Regions from separate parts of the Homo sapiens genome. Here regions 1, 3 and 4 are each reported to be linked to region 2. The links are microRNA targets in miRTarBase. Many come from high-throughput screens and were not tested one by one. Region 2 holds a microRNA gene; each other region holds the end of a gene's coding sequence. Distances are between the middles of the regions.
What was found. Region 2 holds the annotated microRNA hsa-miR-146a-3p (CCUCUGAAAUUCAGUUCUUCAG, at 2,772-2,793, shown strand). A microRNA usually pairs through its seed, bases 2 to 8, with sites in the 3' UTR of a target mRNA and lowers its output. Matches are read on the target gene's strand: a 7mer-m8 pairs with bases 2 to 8, a 7mer-A1 pairs with bases 2 to 7 and ends in A, and an 8mer does both.

Region 1 (7,643 bases), 150 Mb from region 2:
TATATAGTTCCCTCTATTCAGTCATGTCATTGTGTATTTTTCTTGATATTGTTGTTTGGTTCTTTAGAATTTAACAATTTAAGGACAGCAAAGCTAAGACATTCCCTTCAACGGATAAAACAAGTCTCTGCTTAACCTCTGAGTCCTGGCTTTCATAATTTTTCTAGAAAAGTTGGTCTTGCGGAGCAGAAATTGCACACACGAGAACATTTCTTCCAAGTTTAGTTACCAAGCCACCATAACCAGCACATGTGGTGCATTCTAAGTTGATGCAAAGTTATTGTCTTCCTCAGGAGAAAACTGTGGCAGGTAGTTTTTCAGAAAAAAGCCCTCTCAGAGCTGCCATTCCTGAAGGAAGAGAGAAAAAGGCAAAGAAATCATGGGCTGGGTGTGGTGGCTCATGCCTGTAATCCCAGCACTTTGGGAGGCCGAGGTGGGTGGATCACTTGAGGTCAGGAGTTCGAGACCAGCCTGGTCAACATGGTGAAACCCTGTCTCTACTAAAAATACAAAAACTAGCCGAGCGTGGTGGTGCACGCTTGTAATCCCAGCTACTCGGGAGGCTGAGGCAGGAGAATTGCTTGAACCTGGGAGGCAGAGGTTGCAACCATTGCACTCCAGCCTGGGCGACAAGAGCAAGACTCCTTCTCAAAAGAAAAGAAAAAAAAGAAATGATGAGCAAATTCTAGGTAGTGATGAGTGGTATGAGGGAAGAGGAAGCCATGTGAGGATGTAAGATGGGGAAAGTGAGAGGGATGAGCAGGGAGCTGGGGAGGGGAGGGGTCAGGGAGGACCTGGACATCTGAGCCAGGATCTGGGTGGTGGGAAGGGACCAGCAGCAGCAGGAGCTGGGAAATGACCAGGAAGAGCACAGGGACAAACGGGTAGAGCAAATGGTCCGGCACAGTTTCCCAACATGTCCAATGAATACACCAGCCAGCCTTCTAGCAAATTCAACGGTTCCCTGCCATAGGCTACTTCCCTGTGAAGCCCCTGGCTTCAGCGTGGAGGTTCCCTCTTGGTCTACCATGGTGGGACCCAGGCAGAAAAAGCTCCCAGGACCCAGGCTGATGGATGCACGGGTGAGCTGTGCTGGCGAATGCAGTGGTGCTGACTATGTGCTTTGATAACTTTCACCAGGAACAGGAGAGGCCGGTTGGAGTGCTGACGTCTTCTGTCTATGGGAAGCGCATCAATCAGCCCATTGAGCCCCTAAACCGGGACTTTGGCCGTGCCAACCATGTGCAGGCTGACTTCTACAGGAAGAACGACATCCCCAGCCTCAAGGAACCCGGCTTTGGGCACATTGCTCCATCCTGAAGCATCCCCGTGGCCCACAGGGCATGTCCGATACCCTGTGGCCTGGCAAGTTTGCACAGCGAGAAGGTGGCATCTGGAGCCTCCTTTCCCCTTCTCATGACGCCTAGGAGCTTGGCTATGCCTGTGTTGCATCTCTACAGTGGGACACATGAACACGTTAGCAGCCCCCCTCAGGTTGCTGGGTTAGGAGCCTGACCAACAACACCTTTAGTACATGTGAAGAGTCTCTGATGTGATGATTTTCAGCTGGAATTATTTTTGATCAAATGAATCTGGAGACCGATTCATTGTGAGCACCTGAATAAAATGAAAACTTTGTTTCCCCTTGGTAACTGTTGGGTTGGTTTCTGTTCACTGGCTCTCTACATTTGCCAGGATTCTTTGGGGAGGCAGTCACAGGAGTGAGGTGCAGTTGCTTTTCCCACGAGTTAGGGGAACTCCTGCTGCCTGAACACAAACAACCCTGACATGTTCCCTTCTCCAAGAGGAGATGTGATGACAATTGTCTTTTGGCACAATTGAACTCTAGAAACTCCATTTTTGTTTTTCCAGAGGTCTGAATCCCAAATAACAGAATTTTGTGCAGTAGGGACCAGGAGCCCTAGTAAGGATGGGTGGCCCTGGTGGCCAGCAATGCTCACTATTACTGCTCAGAGAGAGGGGGCCAGTCATGGGAAGAGGCTAGATTTCGGTGTTCAACAAACTTGGGTAAAATTCTGGTTGCTGCATTTTCTAGATTTGTGTTCTAGGGCAAGTCATATCATCTACATGAGCAGACATTTCCTCATATTTAAAGTGGAATTTCCAAACCTAGAGGAGTTCATGCGGGAGGCAATGAGCTGCTGGAGCACAGGCATAACACAGGTACCCAGTGTGTGCCCCACCCAGTGCCCCGTCATCACAGCAATGACTTGACTTTAAACAGTCTTCTTTTTGGAAGCAGTCGCTTGTAACCTAAGTTGGAAATACTTACTTTGGAGATAATTTGAAACTTACCCAAGTATTAAAGTATCATCAGCTACATTTTTAATGAATGGATCCCTTGGAAGAAATCATCTCTCATCTACCATGATTAAATTTCCCACAGTTTAGCAGTGAATGGGCAGGTGGCCTAATTAATTTCAATACTGATCGCTCCATCACTGGTTTTATTGTTTTGAATATGGAAAAAGGATTCTCTAAAAATAAATGACACTGAATTCCGGCAATTTCAAGGCTGAGTGACTCCTAAGTATTTCTTTATTTTTTTGAAAACAGTTTTTCAGTGTAGGTGTCTTTTATTTATTTCAAACAAATGGCAGTAGTTTATTTCGAATGCCTTTGGGTGCATTATACCATATTTATAGTAACATAATAGAAAATATATAAAGTTTGGGTTATAGAAATATTTATAAATTATTCATTATTCAGACTTGATTTCAACAAAGACAAGGCATCTGTAAGTGACTGTAATAAATCAAAGTCAAACTAAATTATTTTCATTTACTTTCAGTCAGACCTTACTCCCTTCACCTTCTACTACATACTGACTTTCAAAAGGCAGGGCTGTAATTGGCCAAGATTTCAAAAGATCTCACATTTGTTAGGCCATAAGAGAAAATGAAGTATATTTCTCTCGGTATCCCAATGTTTATCATTTAAAGCCAATGCATGAATGCTTGTTAAAGCCATCACACATCATATCTTCTTATATTAATGGATTGTTTTGGTTTATCAAATTTTCATCACTGGGCAATTATGTTGCTTTTTCTTTTTTTTCTTTTTTTTTCTGAGACAGAGTCTCGCTCTGTCACCCAGGCTGGAGTGCAGTGGTATAATCAAGGCTCACTACGTTCTGGACTTCCTGGGCTCAAGTGATCCTCCCACCTCAGCCTCCCATGTAGCTGGGACTACAGGCACGTGCCACCATGCCAAGCTAATTTTCTTATTTTTTTGCAGAGATGGGGGTCTTGCTATGTTGCCCAGGCTGGTCTCAGACTCCTGGGCTTAAGTGATCCTCTCTCCTCGGCCTCCCAAAATATTGGGATTATAGGAGCCACTGCACCCGGCCTGATGATGTTACCTGGTCATTCGGTGTATCCAGAGCAAAGGAAAGATGAATGGTTGCTGCCTTTAGGAGCACAGTGAGTTGGGAAGGAAGAATAACATCCTGGATTGATGACAAAACTTAGACACTCCTAAACAGATATGTAAAACACTGGGGTTTTTGGGAAACTGGACTGGAGGCAATTTCTATGAGAGGCTTCCTGTAAGACTTAAAGGTTAAGGAGAGCATTGGGGAGAGATTTTTTTTTTTTCTTGAAGCCAATGGCACTGGGACCTGGGCTGATGAGAGGTGCACTGCCAGTTTTCTGCCTGGCATTTTTGCTCACAGGGATGCTTTTAGCTGCCCAGAACTTTAAGGAGCTTTGACCAGGAATAATGCTCTTTCAGATTCAAGGAACAGGCAGTTTTCCATTCTAGCCTGGCCTCAACTGCTAATCAACTGTGGAACTCTGAACACATGTGCCTGAATTACTCTGCCCCTGTTTCCTCACCTGCAAAAACACTGGGGAGGGAGGGAGGTCTGAAGCTTGATCAGGGATCAGAATCACCTGGAGAACCTGTTCACTAAACAGCAGTTGTGCTGGGCCCCAGCCCCGGGGATCTCAAATTCAGGGTCCTCCTTCAGGTTGGGGCCTGAGAATTTGCATTTTTGATAAGTTCACAGGGGATGCTAAGGCTGCTCCTATGGGACCACACCTAGAAGGGACCAGGTACACACAGAGCTTCCCATAGTGGATTCTGACAATGACTCAATGCTTTTAAAAGCCTATTGTTTGGTAAGACTGGTGATATGGCTTTGGGAGAGCACAGTTCTCCTTTTGAGTTCTTTTTAGCGCAAACCCAAGTTCGGTGCACCCCGTGGGGGAATGGGAGGGACTCTGTTTATGAGAACTTGGTGGACCACCCAGCTGGGGGTGTTCACTCAGGGTAGGTGAACTAAGGTGACCTGCGGATGAGTGTAGCAGGATGTAACAGAGGAAGAACCCACGAGGCACGCCTGCTGCTCATCCTTACACATTTTACACCAAGGCCAGTTTGAGCTCACGGAAACGCTACGGCATCCGTGAAGAATGAGTTAGAGGAAAGAGAAAAGCCCTTGTAATAATTCTCTTGCTTTAATCACTGTTTTTGGAGATTTAGGTATATTAAGGCCAATGCTGAGTTGTGATTACAGGATCAAAAAATTCCCCATTGAGGCAGAATACTAAATAAGTCATGCTCTACTCACACTTCGGTGATGAAGGACGGTTATCAGCTTCGATAAGTGCCTTTTACTGGGAATGAGTCACAGTCCTGGCACAGCAGCTGTGCCCGTGCTGTGAATGTACCACGGGGCACCTGCCAGGCTCGCTCACAGTCATTGCCTCGTTTAATCACTAGCGAGTCCATAAGTTGCCAATAAGGAAAGTACTCCTAAGAGGGACTAAGAGATGTGTTCAAAGTCACACAGCCAGTAAAAAATCAGAGCCAGGATTCAAACCAGGAACTTGTGCTTCAAGTTCGAGTTCCCACGAATAAAAGGCTTCCTAAGAGATCATCTGGGTTCTCTACTTCTTACAGATGCCTGCCATGAGTTATAAAAAGAAAACAAGTTTGACCAACTGGGCTACAATTTGCAGTTTTGCTTTTAAACATTAGCTTATACACGATTGCTCTACTTTTCACTATTTGGCAAAGTATGATTTCTTTATGTTAAAAGTACCAAACAACTTGTGTTGGATTTACAAGAACAAATTCTTCAAGGCCTTCTGTCTTTAAAAATGCATGAACGTTGGCTGTGTGTCTTCTTTAGCCTTCTCAGACTTAACAGGCAGTTTGTGGGTCTTAGTACTTCTCTCAGTTAGCTCACGCTATTGTGAGACTGATTTGCATAGCTGATTCCAAATTATTCTTTTGCAGTCTATGTCTGTTAGCTCTAGCAAAACATTCTTGGAGACAGGAGCGTAGTGGACGGAGGGGGCACTGTTGCTCGCAGAGAATCTTTTTACTATTAAAGTATTTTTCCCTGAAAGCGTTCTCTAGAGATGCCCAAATTAAAATCAGACCACTAGATACATTCAACATGCTTGCCTGCTTTCCAGGGAGCTGAGTAACCAGTTATCTGCGTCACACACTGTGTCCTAATCTGAATTACATCTCAATATTGGCTTCTGGAGAGCTCTTTCTGAAACAACTGTGTCAAAAGGGAGAATGGATGGAAAACAAACCTTAATTCTGGAGCAAACCACAGGAGAAAGAAGACAGGAAAATAAAAGATACAGGCACTGTAAATCAAAGTACATAAAACTTTTAATGAATTAACTTTACAAAAGACAAATGGCATCAAAACATCAGACGAGTTTGATACAAAACTGGTCCTAGGCTGTGAGGACTAATTCTGGTGACGGATGGCGACGTGCTGCTGGCATGAGACACACGGAGCAGAGGGACGAGAGCCGTGGGTCCCAACGGGGGCCCTTGGACACCACTGGCAATGAGACAATGGGTGAGCACAGAGTCCACGTGGGGGACAGAATCAACTTATTCACGAATACTGTGTGTTTGAATATCAGATGAGCAGATGCGGTTGGCGAGCTACCATATTTTCCAGAAAAGAACATGCACCAGAAGATAATATACACCCCCTAGTTTTATTGCCTTAAGAATGTGTGTGTGTTTCACCTTTCTCCTCTGTTAGTTCTCCCAGTGCTTTTCTTCTATCACGCGCGCTCCTTTTCCCTTTTGCTTAGGAGCAAGCACAGTGCAAGTGGCAGAACGATCTGGGCACACATCAGACACCAAACGGTATGCCACTGGGTCACGAGAACGAGTCTGCAGAGGCTCCATAGGACAGACAGCACGCACATCAAAAACAAGGGACAGAAGTTGCAGTCAGAAAGTGTGTGATACCTTCCTGAAAATACAGTCTTCTTGCCAAAATGAAGGTGACTCTTCAGGATGCCACGTTGCTCTGGGAAAGGGACCTTGACATTTCTGTGTTTACAAAGTACGTCTTCAGGTCCCCCTTTCCTTTCACGTTGATTATTCCTCGACAGGTGCACGTGTATCCGAGGGTCTGCAGGACGAGGCTCGTCTCCTCGGTAACCTAGAAGGCACAGGAACACGGGAAAACGGGCTTAGTACATACATTGATACAACCCATCTGACTCAAGGATGCAGAGCTAAAAAAAGCACCATGCTCTTTGACCCAGGAATTCCACTCCTGAGAAGTTAGTAGAAAAGTGAGAGTAATCCACAAGAAAAAAAGGTTGTAAAGGACAATGTTGTTTAATTCAGCGCTGGGATAGTGAAAAACTGGAAACAACCTAAAATTCAAGTAACTCCAGTAAACTACGGTGCTACCATGATGCTATCATGGATGACACAATGTCAAACCATTTCACCCAGAAAAGGAATTGAGCCTGGATCCAGGCTATGATTTCAACCACATGATGTTATGTATTCACACTGAAGAGACCTGGATGAAAGAGAGTAAACCAAAATAGATTGGAGTGGTGGGATTCTGGATGATGTTTATACATTGTCATGAATGTCCTTTCATGAAATAAACATTAATCATAGATGTCAGTGTCGATGGGAGGAACACCCCGAGAAGGAGCACTGAGCACTGTAGACTCCTGCCAATGGTCGCGTCTGTCAGGTTTGATGCCTTTGAGTGAAGTAACCTAAAACTGAAAGAGCTGTAGGAATTTGCACTGGTGTCCGCATGAGCATGATGCTCCCAGTCAAGTCTCAAAGGTCTCCTCGCTTCACTGCATTGAAACGGGGGCTAAGGAGGGCAGCCCCTCTTGCAGGCTGCTGGCTTGACAGGACCACTTATTTCCTGCCATTGCACCGACAGGCGAGGGACCCGGCAGCTGAACCATGTCCAGGCCCTGCAGGTCGGATGGCCGTGAACTTGCTGGCTCTGACAGCTTCCTCCTCAGCGGAGATGCACTGTCCAGTACTGGCTCCCTGAGCTTCTGCGTGTGCTGCGCCTTCCTTAGGACACCCTGTCTGGGACTGTGGGCCCGCGCCTGCCTGGGCTTGGGCTGCCTGAGTGTGGAGGAGCTGCAAAAGCAGAGAACCAGTGAGACACACAGGCGTGGTCTGAGGGTGAGGCCTCAGCTTCTGAGGCCAGGGAAGACCCCTCTGTTGGCTACCTGCTCCTCCACCCAGTGTCCCCTAGCAGGTATCTGAGTTTGGGCAGACAGAAAGCCCTGGTAATGCTGCTTTGGAACCATGAGAAAAAGGCACAAAGGAGCAATCTCCTCCCACTTCATCTGAGAAGGCAGCTG
Region 2 (7,643 bases):
CTGGTGGAATTGTAAAATAGTGTGGCCGCTTTGGAAAACAGTCTGGCCATTCATCAACTGATAGCCATAGAGTTAACATATGACACAGAAATTCCACACTTAGGTATACGTCTGTGAAAGGAAAATAGATCTCAGAACTCCCAAAATCACTAAGCCAAAGGGAAGTCAAACTGGGAACTGTGTGAGGCAAACCTGCCTCCCATTTTATTCCTACGTAAGCTAGCTACAAAGATAAAAAAGCTACATACCTCCCTCACAATTTGCCCACTAGGAAATTCCTTGTGGACAAAGGACAGACAGAATTCAGTCATTCTTTTGCTCATGTGAGACCAATGCATATCTGATTGCTTCTTCTGCCCTATTATTTCACTAAGCCAGACTAAGGAATAAGTGACTATTCCTCTACCCTCCTCTCACATGTAAATTGTGTATTCAGTAAAAGGCTAACCAGAGACAAAAAAATGCAACAGTTTGTCTTGTATCTACCTATGATCTGGAAGCCCCCACCCCTGCTTCTAGTTGTCCCAGCTCTCCAGACTGAACCAATGTACATCTTACATATACTGATTGATGTCTCATGTTTCCCTATAATGTATAAAACCAAGCTGTGCCCCGACCACCTTGGGCACAATGTTGTCAGGACCTTCTGAGGCTGTGTGACAGGCATGTTCTTAACCTTGGCAAAATAAACTTCCTAAATGGATTCAGGTCTGTCTCAGATACTTTTGGGTTCACACATCCATGAGAAATGCAAACATATGTCCATACAAAACTTGTACATGGGTATTCATTCATAGAAGCATCAAATAGGCAAAAGGTAGCAACAACCCAAATGCCCATCAGCTGATGAATGGATAAATGAAATGTGGTAGATCCTAACGATGGAATATTATTCATCCATAGGAAGGATGTACTGATACGCATTAAAACATGGATATATCCTGAAAGCTAAGTGAAAGAAGCCAGTCACAAAAGGCCGCTGATTATATGATTTCATTTATATAAGATGTCCAGCATATATATAGACAGAACGTAGATCAGTGATTCCCCAGGGGTGAGGGAGGGGAATGGAGATTGACTGTTAATGGTTATGGGATCTATTTTGGGGATGATGAAAATGTTCTGGAATTGATTATGATGGTTGTACAACTCTGCAAAATACTAAAAACCAATGCATTTTTTACTTTAAATAGGTAAATTTTCTGGTGTGTGAGCTATATAGCTATAGCTCAATAAGGCTATTATATACTTATTTTATTTTATTATTATTTTTTAGAGACAGAGTCTCGCTTTGTCACCCAGCCTGGAGTGCAGTTGTGCAATCTTAGCTCACTGCAACCTCTGCCTCCTGGGTTCAAGTGATTCTTCTGCCTCAGCCTCCCAAGTAGCTGGGACTACAGGTGTGCGCCACCATGCCTGGCGAATTTTTGTATTTTTGTTAGAGACGGGGTTTCACCATGTTAGCCAAGTGAAACTTGAACTCCTGACCTCAGGTGATCTGCCTGCCTCAGCCTCCCAAAGTTCCGAGATTACAGGTGTGAGTCACCACATCTCGCCTATATACATATTTAAAAAACACTAGCATGGTCTCTATGCTTATGGAAAACAGTCTTGTTGGAGAGATAATTTTAATCAAATAATTATACAAAATTATCTAACAATTACAAATTACGGTGAAGGAAAGAATCCCATATTATGAAAGAGACTAGCTGGAGGCTGATGGTGAGGGAGTGGTAGGTAAACATTCAAGTGCTCTTACAGAGATCCCCAAGTAACAGTGGCTTAAATAAGGTAAATGTTCCATTCTTGCTGATCTATCAGTGCAGGTGTAAGCAGTCTAGGGTGTATAAGGAAGCCTCACACTTTTGGGGCTCTTCTGGCATGCTGCTCTGCTGTTCCCTGGGGGGCTGCACTCATTTGCATGGTCCACAGTGGCTCTCTACCATGTCTACAGTCCAAGCCTGAGAAGAGGGAGGGAAACAGTAAAAAACTCTCCACTCCTGCTCATATCCAGCACTTTGTCACACCAGGTGAGGAAACAAAGTCAGATGTCCATGTGTTCAGATACCACTTAAGGGTTCTATTAGTATAGAAGGAGGAGAGAATATATATTGGGCAAACAATCAGCAATCTCTGCCATAGATGGCCTCTCTGAGGAAGTGACATTGAAAGCAAGAACATCAGGATAAGTTGATGTTAAAGAGAGGAACGAGTTTTCCAGGCCAGAGGGATGGCATATGGAAGGGTCATGAGGCAGGAAAGGCCAGCTACCATGTTTAATGATGCTTAATGATGTGTGTGTCTACCATACACATCCCCTACAGATTAGTTTTTGTTTTGACAGGGTCTCTCTCTGTGGCCCAGACTGGAGTGCAGTGGTGCAATCATAGCTCACTGCAACCTCCAATTCCCAGGCTCAAGCGATCCTCCCACCACAGGCCATCATGCATGGCTCATTTTTTATTTTTAGTAGAGACAAATTCTCCATGTTGCCCAGGCTAGTCCTGAACTCCTGGGCTCAAGAGATCCACCCACATCAGCCTTCCAGACTGCTGGCCTGGTCTCCTCCAGATGTTTATAACTCATGAGTGCCAGGACTAGACCTGGTACTAGGAAGCAGCTGCATTGGATTTACCAGGCTTTTCACTCTTGTATTTTACAGGGCTGGGACAGGCCTGGACTGCAAGGAGGGGTCTTTGCACCATCTCTGAAAAGCCGATGTGTATCCTCAGCTTTGAGAACTGAATTCCATGGGTTGTGTCAGTGTCAGACCTCTGAAATTCAGTTCTTCAGCTGGGATATCTCTGTCATCGTGGGCTTGAGGACCTGGAGAGAGTAGATCCTGAAGAACTTTTTCAGTCTGCTGAAGAGCTTGGAAGACTGGAGACAGAAGGCAGAGTCTCAGGCTCTGAAGGTATAAGGAGTGTGAGTTCCTGTGAGAAACACTCATTTGATTGTGAAAAGACTTGAATTCTATGCTAAGCAGGGTTCCAAGTAGCTAAATGAATGATCTCAGCAAGTCTCTCTTGCTGCTGCTGCTACTCGTTTACATTTATTGATTACTTACGATGATTCAGGTACTGTTGTAAGTGCTTTACATGCTGTTATACGAGACTCTTGGGAGAAATCACTTTAATGAAGCTTGAGACACATGGCATTGCCATGCAATGATTTTTCCCCCCTCTTCACGGGATCAGAGGGAACTAATAGAATGTGACAATGATTCTTTAGCAGGGACTGCTGAGGCTTCTGGTTCCTTTTTAAGATCTGCAGTGAAAGAAGATGAGAAACATGGATATGCCCTTCTTTTGGTCCCCCTCTTCCTTTATTTGATCTCTACTTCCTTCTATAAATATATTAGGGCTACATTGTCCCTTTGTATTTCAAACAAGGCAAAAAGAGGTTGTAATTACACTTTACTGCAATCCTCAGTTTCTCCAGGGAACAGGAATGCAAAGGCTTTGAAGGCCTCTCTATTTGCTGACATGGTCAGCTGGGTGCCATGGGCCAAGTCCTTCTGTTGCCCTCCTCTGTCACCAAGTAAGCTAGGTCCTTTCTGAGGCTCAGGTTTGCTGTGATGATGATCACTTTTAGGCAGAAGGTTAGAGGCCTCATGAGTGCTATATGGACTTTATTAGGCTTTAGATTTGATGGGGAATAAGGGATGTGATTTGTCTTTTGGGAACTCATCTTTGATTCATCATTGTCTCTTGGTATCTTGGAATTTCCATGTCATTACAGTCTACAGAATGAAAGAGTAACCTGTCCCAGAGGAGAGGCAGGTGAAAGACTCCACAGCATGCTCATTCTCATTCTGTCTTCTCAGTGACACCGAGGTTTACTGAGTGCCCACTATGTGCCAAGCACTGTGCTCAGGGCTTTCTTTGTATGCATGATCTCAGTGAATCTCACCAAGCCTCATCTGGAAAACGGGGACAAATTAACAACAGGATGGCAAATTGAAAAACACGTAACCATGTTCTACAGATGGAAAGGGGTGCTTGGTTATTATGAAGGCCCCCTCGCAAGCGTGTGGGACATGGGTGTGTTCTCTGGGTTGTACTGATCAGATCAAGGACCTCCCCCACCCTTCTCACACTCTGCCCACTTCCGCCCTTTGCTTATCAGACCCTTAGCCAGTGACTCATTCCAGAACCAGAACCTTGGTGAAATCTCAACCGACACCAGAGATCGGTGTCTTCAGTCCTAGACTGATGGAGAAAATCCAGAATATATACTAGAAGCTCCAAATGCTCTGGGTTTCAGCTCCTCTGTGCTGTGGACACTGACTTTGGCTCAGAACTCCGATTTAGTACAAAAGGCTCATTTTTATTTCAGGGGCACTCTTCCTAAAGCAAACCTAATAAATGAAATATGGAATTCACAGATACACACACACATTAAAAAATTAACCTAGTGTATCTGTGAGGAGTAGGCAGAAATTCACTGTATAAAAGAATGCTTCATTTCATAGAGAATTTGTGTTAAGATTCCATTAGATAGTACATTTCTCAAAGATTTTTGAGGTTGTATTTGCTTTACCAAAACTTGGTTTATGTAAGTGGAAAAAGCATGTTGCAAAATAACTTGGTGTCTATGATTCAGTTTATGTAAAATAATAAATGTATGTAGGAATACGTGTGTTGAAAGATGTACATCAATTTGCTAACAATGGTTATCTCTGACGTGGTGGGATTTGAGATGTGTTTTTCTTTTTGGTTGTATTTTTCTCTATTGTTTGACTTAACACAGAACATGTTTGGTTACAACAATAAAGTTATTGAAGACAATATAACACCCAATTGTGATGAGTCCAGACAGTACTCATGCTGTGCATTTATTAGACAGTATGCCATAGAGGTGGGTCATGGAGGAGTGGAGAGAGAGCCCTGATTTGTTGTCCCATGAAGAAGATAGGCACAGGGTAATATGTAGTGTGATTCTTTTTTTTTTTGCACGAGGAGAAGTGTGTGTGTATCCGTGTAAGTGTATGGATATCCAGTGGGTAGTGGGTGTTAAGATTGCAAGTGATTTTTTTCCCCTCTCCCTTAATCATGCTTTTCTGCCTAAATAAAAAAAGAACTCTCTCCAAAAATCCATCCATGTGTGCCAGTGGTTTTTAAATGTGTTTCTTGGAGCAGCAGCATCAGTATCACCTGTGACTTTTTTTTTTTTTTTTTTGAGTCACTCTGTCACCCAGGCTGGAGTGCAGTGGCATGATCTTGGCTCACTGCAACCTCCGCCTCCTGGGTTCAAGCAATTCTCTTGCCTCAGCCTCCCAAGTAGCTGGGATTACAGGCGCCTGCTACCATGCCTGGGTAATTTTTATATTTTTAGTAGAGACGGGATTTCACCATGTTGGCCAAGCTGGTCTTAAACTCCTGACTGCAGGTGATTCGCCCACCTTGGCCTCCCAAAGTGTTGGGATTACAGGCATGAGCCACCACGCTTGGCCTGGGAATGACTTTTGGATTAGCTAACCAACCTGTGAACTTTTTAGAAATGTAAATTTTCAGGCCCCACTCAAGACCTCCTGAATAGAAAACTCTAGGGGTAGGGCCCAGCAATTTCTGTTTTACCAACCCTTTGGCTGACTTTTATGCACACTAAAGTTTTAGTACTGATAGGGTCAATCAAGGGACATCTGCATTCCCCTGGAACTGAAATATAGCTGACATTGACATGAAAGATGCTGGCCCACTCCTACAAGTATGCATGCAAGTATTCCGCAAAACTTATTTCTGAGAGATGAACAGCAGGACCCCAAAACTTCAAGATGGTTACAAGTGATATTTCCACCGGTGAATAGTAGATTTCTAGGTTTTTAATGTGCAAACTTTAGGTGCATAAAACCGCTTGAAGAAGTTGTCAATTAAGGCAGGTCATGCCCCTGACCCACAGACTAGGCATTTCCAAAGTATCTGTCATTTTAACCATCACTCACTGAATGTCATCAAGGAGGTCCTAGGACGACACTTAGAGCAACTATTCCAGGCTTTTTCAAATGCTGTTTTCCCCCTCCGTACTATTATGTTTCTTCTTCCCAATTCATCCTTTCTCTTCCTGTTGTGATTGATGGGGTCTCAGAAGCAGATTAGCCATCCTTTCGGCTCTGTGCTTGGGAGAGAATAGCTCACATGCTGCTAGAGAGGTGCCTTGGGAGTAATAATAATGATAATGGAAGTATTGATTTGCCATCCTCTGATAACAAAGGAAGGTCATGATTTATCAGCTCACATTAATGGGATGAGGTGGAAAGTTGGACACACTACCTCACAGTCTGCCTTTCCCTTGTGCTAGGTTGCTGGGATTCACTGATTTAGGGACACAGTGGTTTCCTAAGTCCTGCCAGCAGTCAAACCTTTGTTAGTTAAAATGGAAATTTCTTTTTTTCATATTTTCTCACATCTAGACTCTTGCCCTCTTTTCTAATAATATTTCAGAGAGGCAGCTCCCAGTTTGGGTGTCCAGGTGGTCAGAGAGTCTGGAAAAATGCTCTGGGGGCAGGAAACCAGGGTACAAGCCATCTTGTCTAGTTCCTCTTTGCTCTTCTTAGCACTAAGGTGATTTCACAACAGTTTTTTAAGGATGTTCTGCTCCTATCTCCTGCGGAAGCCCTTCCAAGTAGAAGAGTTAATTTTGATTATTCCTGGGAAAGTGCAGAAAATATAATTACAACTTTATTGGATATTTACAAGATACACAAGGTATCTTGTAATAATGAAAGATTTCTCTATTTTCTATATCTGAAAACTGAGGCTCAGGGAGGTTACATAATTTGCTTAAATTTCACACACAACATGTTAAGTGTCACAGCTAGGATGTTAATCAGGACTGCACAGTAAGAACCTATGTTCCTTTCACTAAAGTTTGTACTGTGTTAGGATTTACAATTTGTAAAGCACTTTAACACACATTAGTATATTTGCTGAACACCACATTCTTCCGTGAAATAGCTCTTCTTTTTTTTTTTCTCTTTGAGACAGAGTCTTGCTCTGTCACCCAGGCTGCAGTGCAGTGGTGTGGTCTCAGCTCACTGCAACCTCCGCCTCCTGGGTTCAAGCAATTCTCCCTGCCTCAGCCTCCCGAGTAGCTGAGATTACAGGTGCCCACCACCACGCCTGGCTAATTTTTGTATTTTTTACTAGACAGGGTTTCGCTATGTTGGCCAGGCTGGTCTCGAACTCCTGACCTCAAGTGATCTGGCTGCCTTAGCCTCCCAAAGTCCTGGGATTACAGGCGTGAGCCACTGTGCCTGGCCATAGCTCTTTTCATAATCCTAATTTTAGAGATAGGAAAGTGGAATTTTCAAAAGATTTTGCAACGTATCTGTGCCCCGTGCCATATAGCTGGTAACTGGTGACGTGGAGCCTCAAAACCAAAATCCCTATAGCAAAAAGATCATTTTTACTTAAAAAATGTATACAAATATACATGAACTTAGAAGGAAGGAAAGAAAAAAAATCTTTTGCCTCTGTTTCTGCAGTGTGACTGAAAACAGAAGAGCATGCATTGAGGCCCACTCTGACTTATTCCTCCACCTGTGCCTTTGGTCAGCAGGAGTGAGCCCCCGTCCATGACCAATTCCACCCCAAGGACACAGTTATACTTTAAAATATGTGACAATTGAGAAGCCATATGTG
Region 3 (7,643 bases), not on the chromosome of region 2:
GGCCTTTCTTCTTCCTTACCCACGGGTGCCAAATGTCTCTTGTAGTCTGACCTTTTCCAAGATGACCTGTATCCTGACACAGCGGGGCCAGAGGCCGCGCTGGAGGCAGAAGAGTGGTTCGAAGGCAAGAATGCAGACCCAATCCTCATCTCCTTGAAGCACGGGTACATTCCAGGCAAAAACAGGGATCTCAAGGTGGTCAAGAAGAACATTCTGGATAGCAAGCCCACTGCAAACAAGAAGTGCGACCTGATCAGCATCCCCAAGAAAACCACAGACACGGCCAGTGTGGTGAGGACCAGTGGAGTGCAGGGGTGCTTGGCTGGTTCAGGCTTTATCCTCTAGAAAGCCCTTGTGGTCCAGGGCGTCGGCGAGTACTGTCCCAGCTGGGTGCTCAGGGGTTTTCAGTAAATGAAAAAGTGGGAGAAGGTCCTCGGTCACGTGATGGTGGTGGTTTGTGGCAACACTTGCCTCCTTTAACGGAGTTAAAGCTCCTTTAGCCCCATTAAAGGAGCCAAGTGTGGCCACAGACCACCATGATTGGGATAGGTATCAGTTTCCTCCTATCTCTCAGTGTGAACAGGAGCCTCTTGGGTTTTTCCTGTCTTTTGCCAAACTAGTTAAACCCTTCTCTGATTTGGGTAGAAATAAAATATCATGGGAGTGTGGGGTCATAGGCACCAGGGAGAGGAGGTCCCTGGAAGGAGGGAGTGGCACGTGTTCAGATGTAGCTGAGTGGCTACGACAGAAGGATCTGGCGGTGTGGGGCTGGCAACAAGGGGGATTTAGGCAAGAGCCCTTTGGGTGGGGAATTGGGAATCAAGCCTGCCTTTGACTCGCTGCGGCCACTGGAGAGTGCTGCTGTTGCCGGGAGAGCAGGTCCTGGGTAAGAGAGAAGGAGTGGACACACAGGGCAAGGGTTTCCCTCCCAAGAAGGAGCCTCACAGATGGCAGGAGCTCTGTAGCCTCTGGGAGAGTCACCCCTCTCTCTGGTCAGATAGAAGTTACTCTTGATGGAATGATTGGGGTGGTTAGGACGTAGGACACTGTTGAAGGAGCCTGTTTTGTCCTATAGTCTAACTGTGACCCAGGAGACCCTTTGTTTGAGTAAATGCACAGGCTTCGGGATCAGAAGTGGCACTGTGACACTGTGACACACTGTTGTTTTGCCACGGGATCTCAGATAGATCGGCCAGTGCTCATTGCATTCAAAGCCCCAGACATAGTAGGGCTTTGACTTCTCTTTTCAACTTGGTGACTATGGCTTGCCGTTTGCAAAATAGAAAACTACATTTTATATCTTACAAGTTTTGAACAGTGTTGAACTTTGTTTACTGCATTTTAATCACTGCCTCCTTTTTTTGTTTTCTTAGCAAAATGAAGCCAAGTTGGATGAGATTTTAAAAGAGATCAAATCTATAAAAGACACAATCTGCAATCAAGATGAGCGTATTTCCAAGTTAGAACAGCAGATGGCAAAGATAGCAGCCTGAAGGTCCCACCCCCACCCCTACAGAAAAAATGGGAGCAAGAACTTGTGCTTGGGAGCTGGTTATTGGTGTGGTCCTAGGGAGGGCGGAAAGGGAGGCACTGCCATTTGGAGACATTCCATTTCAGATTTGTCAACCAGCGATAGGCCACATTCCAGTAAGAACTCAATTTGTCTCCCAAATTTGCAGAAACAAAACGTGATTTAAAAGCTGAGCTTTTTATCAGAAAGCTTTTTTGATGTTTTAAGTGTTATGTGACTTGTTGAACTTTTTAAAAAGTGCTACTTTTAAAATCCCAGATACTCTGAATTTTAGAAAACAAACTAATTCTGATTGTGTCGTGCCCAAGTACCCTTTTTTTTTTAATGAATAGGGACCAATGCCACATTGCTTTTTATATTTCTTTCTTTTTTAATGTTGCCAAAACCAAAAGTAGCTTTGTTTTCCTTTGTATTTTGCTACTTTGCAGTATTTGTGTGTGTGGTTTTTTTTCCTTAATTTGAAAGGGACAGCACTGTGTATGTTTATAAACTAAATGAAGATAAGATATTATTTTGTATAAACATTCATCTGAGAACAATCAAAGCAGTAGCCACATGGTGCTGGCTCCTTTGCAGCACAAACCTGGTCATTTTGATGACTGTACAACAGGAAGACTTGAAAAATCACGTGGATTCATATTACCACCGCTCTCATTTCATGGAGTCTTCTGATCAAAAAAGCTCACGTCGTATTTCTTCTTTTCCTTTCTCTTTTCTAGAAATTGGGTGTTTGTACCAGAATGGAATTTTGCTTCTCGGTTATCCTGTGCTTCAGATGATTATAATCTAACCCAAACTAGCATGTGTTTCTGCAGTTTGTTACACACCTAGGATCATATTGCATTCATCACTTTAAACATCATGTTTCAGGTTTTGGTCAATACTTGACAAGGGTGCCCAGGACAGGAAGACGTGTACTGCTGAGTGTTCCTTCTTGCCCTTTTCAGCAGCTTGCCCAGCTCTTGAGTACAGTGGTGGGGACTAAAAATGTGGGCATGTGGAGAGGGGTATTTGCCCTGGGTGATCCTGTTTCCCTGTGCTGTCCCCATGCTGTGTTGGAGGAGGAAGTGGCTCTCCTTCCACCAACAAAGCTCCTGCTCTACCCTCTTCCTCACATGTGCTGCGACCTCTCTCAGGGCTCCCCCAGCCATTCCTTCTTTCCTTCCTGCCTTTTAGCTCTAACCACATTAAGCTAAGACAAGGCCAGAGGGTGCGATTGAATGAGTATTGAGACTGAGGAGAATGATAGAGAGTGAAGCAGAAACAGGAGCACAGACCTCTGCTGTAGCTTTAATGCATACAAACATGTCCCTCCGCACAACTAACCTGCCCTGCCTCTCCATCTCTCACCAAGGCTGCGTCAAAGCACAGAGGCTCCCCGGACTCGGAGGGGGCCAGAGACTGAGCTCTGGTCACCTGTTCATTCCTCGGTTAGCTGGAACTTTGCCCCGTTTCCAGTTTCTTATAGTGCATGCTTGGGAAACAAGATTTAAGGAGCCTCTGTTTTGGAAGGGCTGTCTGTGATTGAACGTGAAATGTGTAGTGCCATTGGGACCACGAAGGGAATTCTTGCACATGCTCGTGCTGGTGTGGGCATGGGACTGGCTGGAAACGTCTGTATGCAGGGAGCCAGGGTGAGGGCAGAGTGTGGTGACAGCCGAACTTGGAGTAATGTCCGTGTAGAAAAAGGACCATGTTCTTATCCAGCCAATACTGGGAGTGCTGTCTCCACAATTTCAGGGCATCTGAATGTTTGATGTGGTTTTGTGTGTGTGTATGTATGTGTTTAATATTGAAGTGGATCATGAGATGTAAAGAAAACAATAATGGCAATGACTTATATTCAAATCTGTATTTGTTTCTTTATCAATGTAATCTGCTGAGGACCTTTTGTCTAAGATTCAGTAGTGTTTTAAGGTTCTGATATCGAATTAATGAAGTAAAGTTGTTGATGGTGGTGAAACACCGTAGGGCATGTGGTTCAAAGAGAAGCAGGAGGGCAAGGGAAAGTTACCCTGATCTTAGTTTGTAGCTTATGACTTATTTAATGAATGGATGCCCAGCCAAGCTCAGAGTAGGCGCCCAAAGCATTGTGGATTATTTTCCTGTTTTGTCTTTTTTTTTTTTTTTTTTTAAGCCATGACATCCCAGAAGAGGACAGTGAATTACTCCTAGGTCGGCTCTTATAGAGTGGCCATAGTGTTCTGTCAAAACACTTGCTTCCATTTTCAGAGATAAAAATCATTGATTACAAAATGGTGTTTGTGTTTATTTCACGCCTTGGCTGTCTGTGAGGCAGCCCCCACCTCTCTGCCTGACATAGCTTCTCTGACTTTGGTGGACGAGCACGGTGCCATACTCCTCTCCGGGGGTAAGTACAGGGGAAGCGCGTGTGGGTGGCTCAGTTCAAGTACAAGTGAGGTCTCCAAGCCAGTCAAGCACTGTGTTTTGGCTTCCAGCAGACCTGAGCCTTTGGATCCTGCCTCAGACCTTTGCCAGCGGTGTGTCCTGGGATGGGGTTCCTAATCCTTCTGAGTCCCTTTTCTTGAAAGGAGGATGATAATTCCATGTAGTTCAGATGAGAGGAATACCTGTGTGGCCACACAAACAACCCTCGCTGCATGGCCGCTACTGTTACTATTATGAGTTGATTTTCTGACAGAGTCTTTGAAAGCACTTTTTCTTCAATAGAAGCAAAATTCTCTTGGCTCAGCTGTGACTTTTATTCCAGCAGGCTTCCAGGGTCAGTTGAATTGCAGGGCTTCCCTTTCGCACTATGACATTGTCTCGTGACATTTCAGTGATTGTAGCAAAGAATTTCCCACTGTTTGCTTTTTCTGAATATGATGAATGGTCAGCATAAAGCTCCCCTTCCTCAAATGCCTTATCTTAAAGTTGCTTTAGTCTATGAGAAGAATGGCTGCCATGTTCTTGGTCCACTCGTGGCTGCAGGAAGTAGAAGTTGGCAGGGCTCTCTGTAGACCCGAGGTGCCCGCAGTCAGCCAGGAGACGCGTGGTGGTCTGTTTATGACTAACTTGTTTTCTCACTCGGGCCACCTTGATTCTTTGCCAGAAGACCTGAAGGTCAGCATGCTGGCCCCAGACAGCCAGCCAGACCTCGTCTGGGGGGAACTTCCATTTTTTTTTTCAAGGTCACTTCCCTTGCTGTACTTGGTATTCTACACCCAGAAAAACTCTTTGTTGGCTCTTAAGAATCTGTTAACTCTAAGTGGGCCCTTCTCTTTCTGCGGGCACATTAAGTATCCCAGTGCTGGCAGTGGGTCACGGACATGAGTCACCGTCAAGGGCACGCCTTTCCTGCTTCAGACGGGCAACCCTTGATGTCCAGGCCGGACAGTGCCCTTTGTGCTCTTTTATTCGTTAAAAAGAAGTCCCTTGCCAAAGAATGTAGGGGTGGCAGTCCTCTCCTGCGAAAAGCGGGTATGTGCGGGGTGGACAGCCTTTCCAGAGGGCAGTCTGGCAAGTGGATCAAAAGCCTTAAAGGTTTTCTTAAGACCCAAGATTCTCACCTTTGGAAATTTTGTCCCAGGGAACTAGTGGGAGGTATATTCAGGAATTAGAAGAGTAAAATCAACTCTGCAGAAGGGGGTCAGTAAGTTACTTGTCATATCCATATGTTATAATTCTGTTCCATTATTTAAAGTCATTTAAAAAGAGTATTGAATAGGAAACATTAAAAAAATAGTAAAATAAAGTCAATTCCAACTTGGGTTTAAAATATATACCTACCTAGGTTGAAACATGAAAGTATATTATTTCTGGGTGCTGGATGTCACTACCAACTTTTTTCTGTGTATGCCAAGAGCCCTACAGTGAACTGTGTTGCTGATGTCAGCATAAAAAGTGTGTTTACAAAGTAATTCTCATCAGCTCTCTACCCCATGGAGTCACTCTGCAGTAAATGATGTTAGTTGGCTAATCCATTCAGAAGTAAAATGGGGAAGAAAGTGAAGTCCATTGGACCTCATAAGAACATTCAGGACCAGAACTTCTAGTGAGAGGTGTAGGTTTCCTAATACAGATATGTAAAACCAACCCCGAACAGATGGCTTGTGACAAACTTTTTAAAGGATATATGCATATACAATGTATACTTATGTGTAGAATAAATACCAGAAATGTTGTTATTGCTATAGGGAGGTAAAGTTGTGTGTAATTTCTATTTAATCCTATTTTTCTGAATTTAGAAATTTCCTATAAATGTATTTATTCCCAGAAAGGCATTATTAAAATTAATGTATTAGTGATAAGTTAATAATTATTAAGATAAGCATAAATCAGTGGAGATGTTTGAAATGGTGCAGCAACATTTGGTTAGCTGTGGGGGCAGCAGGGACACCAATATACATTCTTAATGGAGTCCACAGTTAAAATAAAACCTTTTCTTTTTCTATTTAGAAGAAAGTAAGTCCCTTTTAATCTACACTTCAGACTAGAAAAAATGTAAGCCCTAAAGCAATGGAATACATCACAAAGGAAAAGACAGATTGGCTATATAAAAATTAAATTACGTAAGACTTTAATATGGCAGAAAACAAAGGTCATCGGAACTGGGAAATACGTTTTCTTCCAATATAGTAAGGGCTAAGTATACTTTGATATGCTTCATCTCAGCTGCAGCTGCTGCCTCTATTTGAAACGTGACGTGTGAAATGTTAAGTCCTAGGCAGCTGATGTGCAGATGGCAGCTGTCCTCATCCCTCCTGTGGGAACCGAGTCCACCAGCAAATGGCTTATTCTCAACTTCGAACTTTGGGGTGTGGGGTGGGGGGGGGTGTGTTCGCTAGGCGACACTGGCCGTGGTGTGCCGGCTGAAAGTTCCCCTGTGGCGAGTGTCAGGAGGGCTGGGTGGGAGATGGGAATTACTGCGCATCCCAAGATCCTTGAGGATAAGGTGACTGCTGAGTTGGTTGGATTGGCTGAAATGTGGAGGGGGGTGAGTTTAGAGAGGCAGATGGGATCCTTCAAATTCATTGTAGTTGGAGTTTAATTCATGTGAACGAAAATGGGTAAGAGGGCAGATTTTAGGATCCTGAGTTTAGTGAGGGGCAGATAGAGGGTGAGGCACGCGGCTCCCTGACAGGCTTCATGGTGAGGGGCTAGAAAGCAACGTCAGGGCCGTTGCCCAGGGAGCCTGAGGGCAGAAGTCAGAGGAGGAAGTTACCCACTTCAGGACTCAACTTGGAAGGCAAGTAGACAGGTCTATTCTGCTGTCAGAAAAAATCTGCACACTTGAGCTTGGGCACTCACCACCGGGTGCTTAGTTTTGTTCTTAGAGTAGCTTCCTCACACTGATCTCAAAGAGTAAGTGGACTTTTGGGGAAGGACTTCCTGGTGGGTTTGGAACAGAACTGGGGAGAAGTGGCTCAAAGGCCCCCAGGCAGTTGTGGGGGCAGAGAAAGCTTTGGGCTGCCAGAGAGGAGCAGTCATCTGTGTCTCCGAGGGGAAGAGCAGGGAGCAGGCCTGGTTACAGTGGAAAGGGATCACACACAGGGTGCCTGGCCCCCAAAATGCTGCGGAACGTGGTTGGGGCTGGTTGCCAAGTTTGTCCAGGCTCCTCTCCACTGGGTGTCTCTCAGGCCCCCAGCAGCAGGGCTCCCTTCCCAAGAGCCCTGTGCCTCTCATCGCCCATTTCCTAATCTCTACCCCACTAGGTAGGGTTGCATTCGTCTTGGCATTCACTGAGTGAGAACTTGCATTTACAGTGAGAGTGTCACCGAGCTGGAGAGAACTGTAATGGAGCAAGTGACCCCTGGTCCAGCCAGGAGAGGTGCTCAGGCTAACACTTAGTGCCTTGAGGGAGTTCAGCAACAACATCCAAGCTTGGGGGCTCTAGTGATGAAGTCTGAGAACTGGGAAGTGCCCCATCCATGACAGGGAGCTGTTGCAGCTTCATTTCCGTGCAGAGATGCTATTTGGGTTGTGGAAGTTGGAATAATACCTCTTGGCGAACAAAATCCTGGGCTGCTTATCACCATCCCCACCTACAGCTCCCCAAATGCAAAATGAGTTCTTACCACCCTGAGCAGTGTCTTCAGGAGGCAGTGGCCTAGAATGCCTCATAAACCACAAGGTGGAGATTCCATCTGGG
Region 4 (7,643 bases), not on the chromosome of region 2:
GAAGCACAATGTGGAATTTACAGGGAAAGAGAGAGTGAACTGGTGGGGATGGGGGGAAAACACTAGAAAGCTGAGGAGTAATCCATAGGTTCTTCTCCTGTTTGAAGAATAAACACAAGAGCAATCCAAGGCAGTACTGTCAGTAATTCTTCAGAACTGGTATGATGTTTGGAATTGGAGGACAAAAATAAAATCCCATACCGTAAGCTTTCCGGATTATAATGCGAAAGATGTGCTGAATGCCACAGCAGCATACTTTAATCTGTAGTTCATGACATTTAGCAAAGCAGGCCATAGTGATGTTTACTTTATTATTCCAAATGTGTATTATCTTTACCAATGGCCTTTTATCTGCAGAGTTCAGACATAATATAATATACTTGTCCAATCGAGGGCTTGTAACAACCCAGAGAATGTTCTTTCTTCCTTATCTTTCTTCTTGCATCCAGCTAAAGAAAAGTAAATTCTTCAGTGGAGAAGAGCCTGGGCATGAAGAGCAGGGAAAGATGGATTAGTTCTGAAGTAGTGGCTAGGTTGGATTGGCTGAGAGAATTCTTTGAGTCTTGAGAGATAACTGAGTCCCAAGCATGGGATACCACAATTCTGCTTTCAGAATACTCCTGTAAAGTGAACGAATGGGGTACCATAATGCTAGAGCACCTTGAACATTGTATTCTTTCATCTTTAGGTATTGCCAGGGAACAGACGAGGAGGACAGGGCTATAGGCCACAAGGCCAAAAGTCCAATGACCCCATGAACCAAGGGCGGCATGACAGTATGGGTCGTTACAGAAACAGCTCGTGGTATTCATCTGGTTCCAGGTATCAGAGTGCTCCATCTCAGGCACCAGGAAACACCATTGAAAGAGGCCAGACTCACTCTGCAGGGACCAATGGAACTGGAGTCAGCATGGAGCCCAGCCCTCCCACGCCTTCATTCAAAAAGGGGCTCCCCCAGCGCAAACCCAGGACCTCTCAGACTGAAGCCGTGAACTCTTGAGAGAAAATCCAGTTGGCCTCTCTCCTCTATCCACACAATTCAACTTGATAACTGGACTTTAGGAAACTTACAGTTAGATGTAATAACAAAAAGAAGTTTATGCGTATCACTTTTTGTGCCATTCTAAGTATTTTTGGTTTCTTGTCTCCTTATTTCCTCTTTACCATTTTTGGAGGGGAAGCTATTTTTTTTCCTTGATCTTTCCCAGTGATATGGATTGAATCTGGTTGGTCATTTCCACCAGGAATCAGAGGCAGCTGTTACCAGGTTTCGGCCTTCCAGTTGATCCCTCCACTGTCCAGGCTGTCTCAGGAGGAGGTGAATCAGAGCTAGTCTGTCACCTTTCCAATCTAAGCCGAAGCCACAGGTGCCTGACAGGTTCCCTTCTAACAACTATTTGACCAAGAGAGGCAATCAGGGGGTTGTATACTGCACTGGATTCGCCAGAGAAGGGAAAATTTAATTAGTGAAAAGGAAAGAACACTAGGAAACATTTGAGAACCTGCCTCTATCCCAGAATGTGCTGGAGATTTGACACTCAAATCAGTGTTTAGTCTTCTGCTTGGCACCATAGCTTAACCTGCAGTTTCTTCAAAATGCCCAATGCCTTGTTTCCTATTACCTTAGATTGCAAACCAGTCTAGGGAAGTCTATGAGAAAGTAGCATTTAATTAAAGTTTAAAAAAAAAAAGGTTGGGCGTTGTGGCTCATGCCTGTAATCCCAGCACTTTGGGAGGCTGAGGCGGGTGGATCACTAGGTCAGGAGTTCAAGACCAGCCTGGCCAACATGGTGAAACCCTGTCTGTACTAAAAATACAAAAATTAGCTGAGCATGGTGGCGTGTGCCTGTAATCTCAGCTACTCAGGAGGCTGAGGCAGGAGAATCGCTTGAACCCAGGAGGCGGAGGCTGCAGTGAGCTGAGATTGTGCCACTGCACTCCAGCCTGGGAGACAGAGCAAGACTCAGTCTCAAAAAAAAAAAAAAAAGCATTTTTCTGTTTTAATGTTTGGAGACTTTTTTTTTTGTTCTCTCCCTTTCCTGAACCCTATTCTGATCCTGAACCAAATTTATAGCAATATAATTAGTGTTAATCTAAGGCATTACTCATCAAAAAAATTGCTGCAGTCTTTACAGTTGAATAAATAAAAACAACTGCATAAATATGCCCACTTTTGTTTCATAGCAGCAAGTGGTTTCATTTCATTATGTTTTTCTTTGGGCCTCATGGGGGTAGAAGTCACTCAGACAGCTTGTTCCAGGATTAAATGAGGGTATCTGATTCCCAAGTCATTTGTCTGCCACCACTGCGTAGCTTCAGAACCAAATTAAAATATGAAAGCCAGGAAGAGCAAATGCAGTTGTTCCTAGTGAGAAAGGATCATAGGATAGGGAATGGTGACTTTCCAAAGGAGAACTTAACCACTTTAAGAAAACCACAGCTCTCCAGGCTCTCCCAGGTAACCAAAGTTTATAATGGCACTGCTCTCCCCAACTCCCTGTCCCTTGACTGAGTATTGAACGTAACCGTATAATTGAGCTCCTGCGTGTAGCAGGTGGCATGGGTGCCAGACCCTTCCACCCCACACTCACCCCCAGCATCTGTGATTTAATCACAGCAGAGCTTTTCTTTCTCTGGCATGTGTTCTCCCAAGTCTGAAGCCCAGACTGTAAGTGGCAGCCGTGCAGAACGTAGCTGCCTCAGGGCTTCCCTTGCCTCCTTGGCTGAGTGAAGCTGAGCTGCCAGGGTTCAGGTTGGTTGAACACATTCAGAGAGAGTGTGTGTGTCTGTCTGTCTGTCAGTAAAGAAAACAGTAGTCAAGGAGTTCTGGGTATTTTCCAAGAGCACCTCATTTTGGGGAATTTGTCCAACGACACCAACAGCCTGCTGGGTGTCAGGAAAAAGCCCTGCATTTCTGATTAATTGCTTACCTGTACTTTATCAGAAATCCAGAGATTGAAGTGACCTTGAAGGATTATGAGGTCTGTCCCTGTATCCAGGCAAGACCGTACTTAACCACCCAGACAGATGGGACAAGGCATGTTTATCAAAAATGCCTTGAAGTTGAAATTAAAATCTCCTTATAGAAAAATATTTGAAAATTTTTCATGACCACAAAAAGTTTGAAAATTATGAATTAAAAAAGTTTTTATTACGAAAGTAGTATTTAAAATATCAGTACAGAAATATAAAAGGAAAAAAAGTTATCCATCTTTCCACTTCTCAGGGGTAATGACTGTTAATTTGGCATATATCCTTCTACACCTTTTTTCTTTTTAGAAATGGGGTCTCACTGTGTTGCCCAGGCTGGAGTGCAGTAGCTATTTACGGACATGATTAGAAGGGACTCTTGGGCTTAAGCAATCCTCCTGCCTCAGCCTCCTGAGTAGCTGGACTACAGTTGTGCACAATCACTCCTGGTTAGACTGTTTTTAAACCATGTATGTGCATATACACATGAGTATATGGGTTTTTAATTTTTTTTATACAAAGATCATACTGGGCTGGGTGCGGTGGCTCACGCCTGTAATCCCAGCACTTTGGGAGGCTGAGGTGGGTGGATCACCTGAGGTCGGGAGTTCAAGACCAGTCTGACCAACATGGAGAAACCCCATCTCTACTAAAAATGCAAAATCAGCTGGGTGTGGTGGTGCATGCCTGTAATCCCAACTACTCAGGAGGCTGAGGCACGAGAATCACGTGAACCTCGAAGGCGGAGGTTGTGGTGAGCCGAGATCACGCCATTGCACACCAGCCTGGGCAACAAGAGCAAAATTCTGTCTCAGCTAGGCGCGGTGGCTCTTGCCTGTAATCCCAGCACTTTGGGAGGCTGAGGCGGGCAAATCATGAGGTCAGGAGATCGAGACCATCTTGGCCAACATGGTGAAACCCCGTCTCTACTAAAAATACAAAAATTAGCTGGGCATGGTGGCTGGTGCCTGTAATCCCAGCTACTCAGGAGGCTGAGGCAGGAGAATCACTTGAACCAGGAGTCGGAGGTTGCAGTGAGCTGAGATCGCACCACTGCACTCTAGCCTGGCGACAGAGAGAGACTCTCAAAAAAAAAAAAAAAAAACGAAACTGTCTCAAGAAAAAAAAGATCATAGTACTATGTATATTCTGTAGTTTTTTAAATAATATGTGTAAACTATAATTCATTTAGGATCTCATGCTGTGGATCTTCTCCTAAATTTGCCAATTTGACTCTTCTTCAATGAGAAGTTAGGTTTATCCTAAGTTTGAATTGTGTAGCCCATTCCTCATTGCCCATAGTGGTTCTAGGCTTCCCAAAAGAAGGAAGATACATCCCCTGGGCAGTTACCACTGGTGCACCAAGAGGCCTTACCTAACCATTGTTTGTCCTTCTCTTTCCACTTCCTCTTTCAGACAAATGTCTCACCCTGCCCAACTTAAGAGATAGGACTGCAACTTTAAGTTGTTTAGCTCTGCCAGTTACATGACACTTGAGAGGCAAAATTTAAATTAGCATGGCTTCATTATGAACATCATATATTTCCTATGCCCCTAATTTATGGCGATTTAAAAAAAATGTGCTTTTAAACAAAAGTGCAGACCAGCTTTTTTTTTTTTTTTTTTTTTTTTTTTTTTAAAAAAAAGGGACCGGGCTGGGCGCGGTGGCTCACGCCTGTAATACCAGTACTTTGGGAGCCCAGGCGGGCAGATCACAAGGTCAGGAAATCGAGACGAGACCATCATGGCTAACACAGTGAAACCCCGTCTCTACTAAAAAATAGAAAAAATTAGCCGGGCGTGGTGGCGGGCGCCTGTAGTCCTAGCTACTCGGGAGGCTGAGGCAGGAGAATGGCGTGAACCCGGGAGGCGGAGCTTGCAGTGAGCCGAGATCTTGCCACTGCACTCCAGCCTGGGCGACAGAGCGAGACTCCGTCTCACAAAAAAAAAGGCGGGGGACAGGGTGCGGTGGCTCACGCCTGTAATCCCAGCACTTTGGGAGGCCGAAGCTGGCAGATCACCTGAGGTCAGGAGTTTTCAGACCAGCTTGGACAACATGGTGAAACCCCGTCTCCACTAAAAATACAAAAAAAATTAGCCGGGCATGGTGGCGGGTGCCTGTAATCCCAGCTACTTGGGAGGCTGAGGCAGGAGAATCTCTTGAACCCGGGAGGCGGAGGTTGCAGTGAGCTGAGATCGCGCCACTGCACTCCAGCCTGGACAACACAGTGAGACTCGGTCTCAAAACAAAAACAAACACAAAAAAGGGTACATAGTAGAAATTTAAAAGTTTTCTCTACCTTGTCCCACTCCCCCGAAGAAATCGCTGGTTTCTTACATGTCTTTCCAGAAACTTTCTAAACCCAAACATAGAAGTACCTTTTCTTTCTTTTGCATAAATGGGATTCATACTGTGCATACCCTTATACAAGTTGCTTTTTTCACTTGTCCTCACTTTTTGTAACTCATTTTTTTGTTTTGTTTTAAGAAAAATCAAGTATATTTCTACTTACTGACGTGGATGGAGGTCTACGAGGTATAGACCTCTGTTCTGTGGCTGCATAGTATTCCATTGTATAAGTTTGTTATTATTAGTTTAACCAGTCCCTAATGATGGTTTTCAGTTTTCTGCTATTACAAGTATTGCTGCAATGAGCATTCCATAATGCATATATCATTCCTCACTTGAGAGAATATCCCTGTAGGATAAATTCCTAGGAGTGGAATTACTAGGTCATATAGTTATTGATAAAGTATTATTTTGATAAAGTTGCACGGATTCACACATGCAACTTATTTATTTAGAGATATGGACTCTCTGTCACCCAGGCTGGACTGCGGTGGTGGGATCATAGCTCACTGCAGCCTCAAACTCCTGGGCTCAAGGGATCCTCCTGCCTCAGCCTTCCAAGTAGCTGGGACTACAGGTGCATGCCACCACAACTGTCTAATTTTTTATTTTTATTTTTTGTAGAGATATGGTCTTGCTTTGTTGCCTAGGCTGGTCTCGAACTCTTAGCCTCAAGCAGTCCTCCCACCTTGGCCTGCCAAAGTGCTGGGATTACAGGTGTGAGCCACTACACCCAGCCACCAGGTTTACATTTTCTACCAGTGTTTGGCAATGCTTTGTACAGTTGCTGAGCCAGAAGCTAAGGAGAGAAACAATCCCTGACTTCACATGGCTGATAAACCAGTTGATGCAACTGAGAATACCAATAAATAATACAAGGAAATAGTGTTGCTTGAAAGTGCCATGCTGTCTTCGAGGTGGAGGGAGCACAGCCGAAAGGGCTGGGTCCCATGCTTGAGCCAGAACTATACCAGCATATGATCAGGCAGTTGTGCAGTGGTGTATGGAGATAGTGACATTCCATTATATTTCAGAATCCCAAACCAGGGTACAGTCTTGTGAGTATGAATGTATGTATGGGAGGGAATAGGATAAACTAGTTGAAGTTAGGAGTGACCCGGAAAATTCGGGATGCATGTCACTCATCTTTGTACTAACCCGTTCTCTTGGAGAAGGTCAGTAGAATAATGTCTTGTTGCCCCTGAAAATTCTACCATCTGACCCAAGAAAATGAGGTTCTGTCTTCCCTGATTTGTAGGGTTCATCCCACCTTCTGGTCCCATTTGGTGAGGATTGTATCCTTATGGCAGCACATTTCTTGGAAGAAACAGGTATACATGCTGGGAGGCTGCCAACTGATACAAGAAACTATTTTATCACTAGTTTAACCAACGAGTTCAAAGTACCGGCTCACAATGCTGGTAGCCAGAACAACATACTATAAAATCAAGTTTCTGGTTGTTGTAGCCACTTGGGCACATTTTCTCTCCATCATACATTGAGGTACCTACTGTGTGCTAGGCACTCTGCTGAGTTCTGAGCCAGAAACTATTCTAGCTCATTCTTCTTCTTTTTTTTTTTAATCTATATTTTTTGACACAGGGTCTCACTCTGTCACCCAGGCTGGAGTGCAGTGGGGCCATCTCAGTTCACTGCAACCTCTGCCGCCCTGGTTGAAGCAATTCTCTTGCCTCAGCCTCCTGAGTAGCTGGGATTACAGGTGCCTGCCACCACACTCAGCTAATTTTTGTATTTTTGGTAGAGACGGGGTTTCACCATGTTGGCCAGGCTAGTCTCAAACTCCTGACCTCAGGTGATTTGCCTGCCTCAGCCTCCCAAAGTGCTAGGATTACAGGCATGAGCCACCAGGCCCAGCCCTAGCTCATTCTTCAACTGCTTTGCAGGTAAAGGAAGTAGAGCTCGTCCTTAAACCCTTGGGAGCCCTGCCTGTTGGCCAGGCAGTGTGGTAGAGTATAAAGATTCAACTTGGATTTTAATTCTGGCTTCACAGCTTGGTAGCTGTGTGACCGACTGCCCTTGGACAGATAACAGCTTTGAACCTCTTTCTGAACTGTGAAGTGGGACAATGGTAACGACTTTATGAGACATCTAGCCAGGTGCTACAAAACAGTGCCCTGCGTGTCTAGGCTAACCCATGACAAGTTGAATGTTCACTCCCCATAGCCCCTTTCCTTTTCTGTCTGTCCTGCTTTGTTGAAAAGTATATGAAAGAAGACTTCCCCTATATCCAGCCAGACAGACCTTATTAATCACAAAAATACTAAAAATCCAGCTATCCTATTCCTTCTGTAAATTTTCTTCC

Region 1: miRTarBase lists ADCY2 as a target of hsa-miR-146a-3p. Seed matches in the 3' UTR shown: 7mer-m8 at 3,814-3,820.
Region 3: miRTarBase lists CORO1C as a target of hsa-miR-146a-3p. Seed matches in the 3' UTR shown: 8mer at 3,759-3,766.
Region 4: the mRNA of SPATS2 is a reported target of hsa-miR-146a-3p. The part of its 3' UTR that is shown has no 7-base or 8-base seed match.

The regions. Positions count from the first base shown.
Region 1 is chr5:7,825,527-7,833,169 of GRCh38, reverse strand. It overlaps ADCY2 (adenylate cyclase 2), which reads right to left. Exons shown (of 25, transcript NM_020546.3): 25 at 3,089-6,451. The coding sequence ends at 6,299. It overlaps CFAP90 (cilia and flagella associated protein 90), which reads left to right. Exons shown (of 3, transcript NM_001089584.3): 3 at 1,141-2,792. The coding sequence ends at 1,320. Among named protein-coding and RNA genes, the nearest start is that of CFAP90, 22 kb to the left of the region's middle.
Region 2 is chr5:160,482,637-160,490,279 of GRCh38, forward strand. MIR146A (microRNA 146a) reads left to right here and starts at 2,716; the gene lies at 2,716-2,814. MIR3142HG (MIR3142 host gene) reads left to right here. Exons shown (of 2, transcript NR_132748.1): 2 at 2,663-4,790.
Region 3 is chr12:108,641,253-108,648,895 of GRCh38, reverse strand. It overlaps CORO1C (coronin 1C), which reads left to right. Exons shown (of 11, transcript NM_014325.4): 10 at 46-291; 11 at 1,374-3,787. The coding sequence ends at 1,493. LOC105369968 (a long non-coding RNA gene) reads right to left here. Exons shown (of 3, transcript XR_007063449.1): 3 at 2,231-7,643. Among named protein-coding and RNA genes, the nearest start is that of MIR4496, 9.3 kb to the right of the region's middle.
Region 4 is chr12:49,525,256-49,532,898 of GRCh38, forward strand. SPATS2 (spermatogenesis associated serine rich 2) reads left to right here. Exons shown (of 14, transcript NM_023071.4): 14 at 689-2,170. The coding sequence ends at 1,000. Among named protein-coding and RNA genes, the nearest start is that of KCNH3, 10 kb to the right of the region's middle.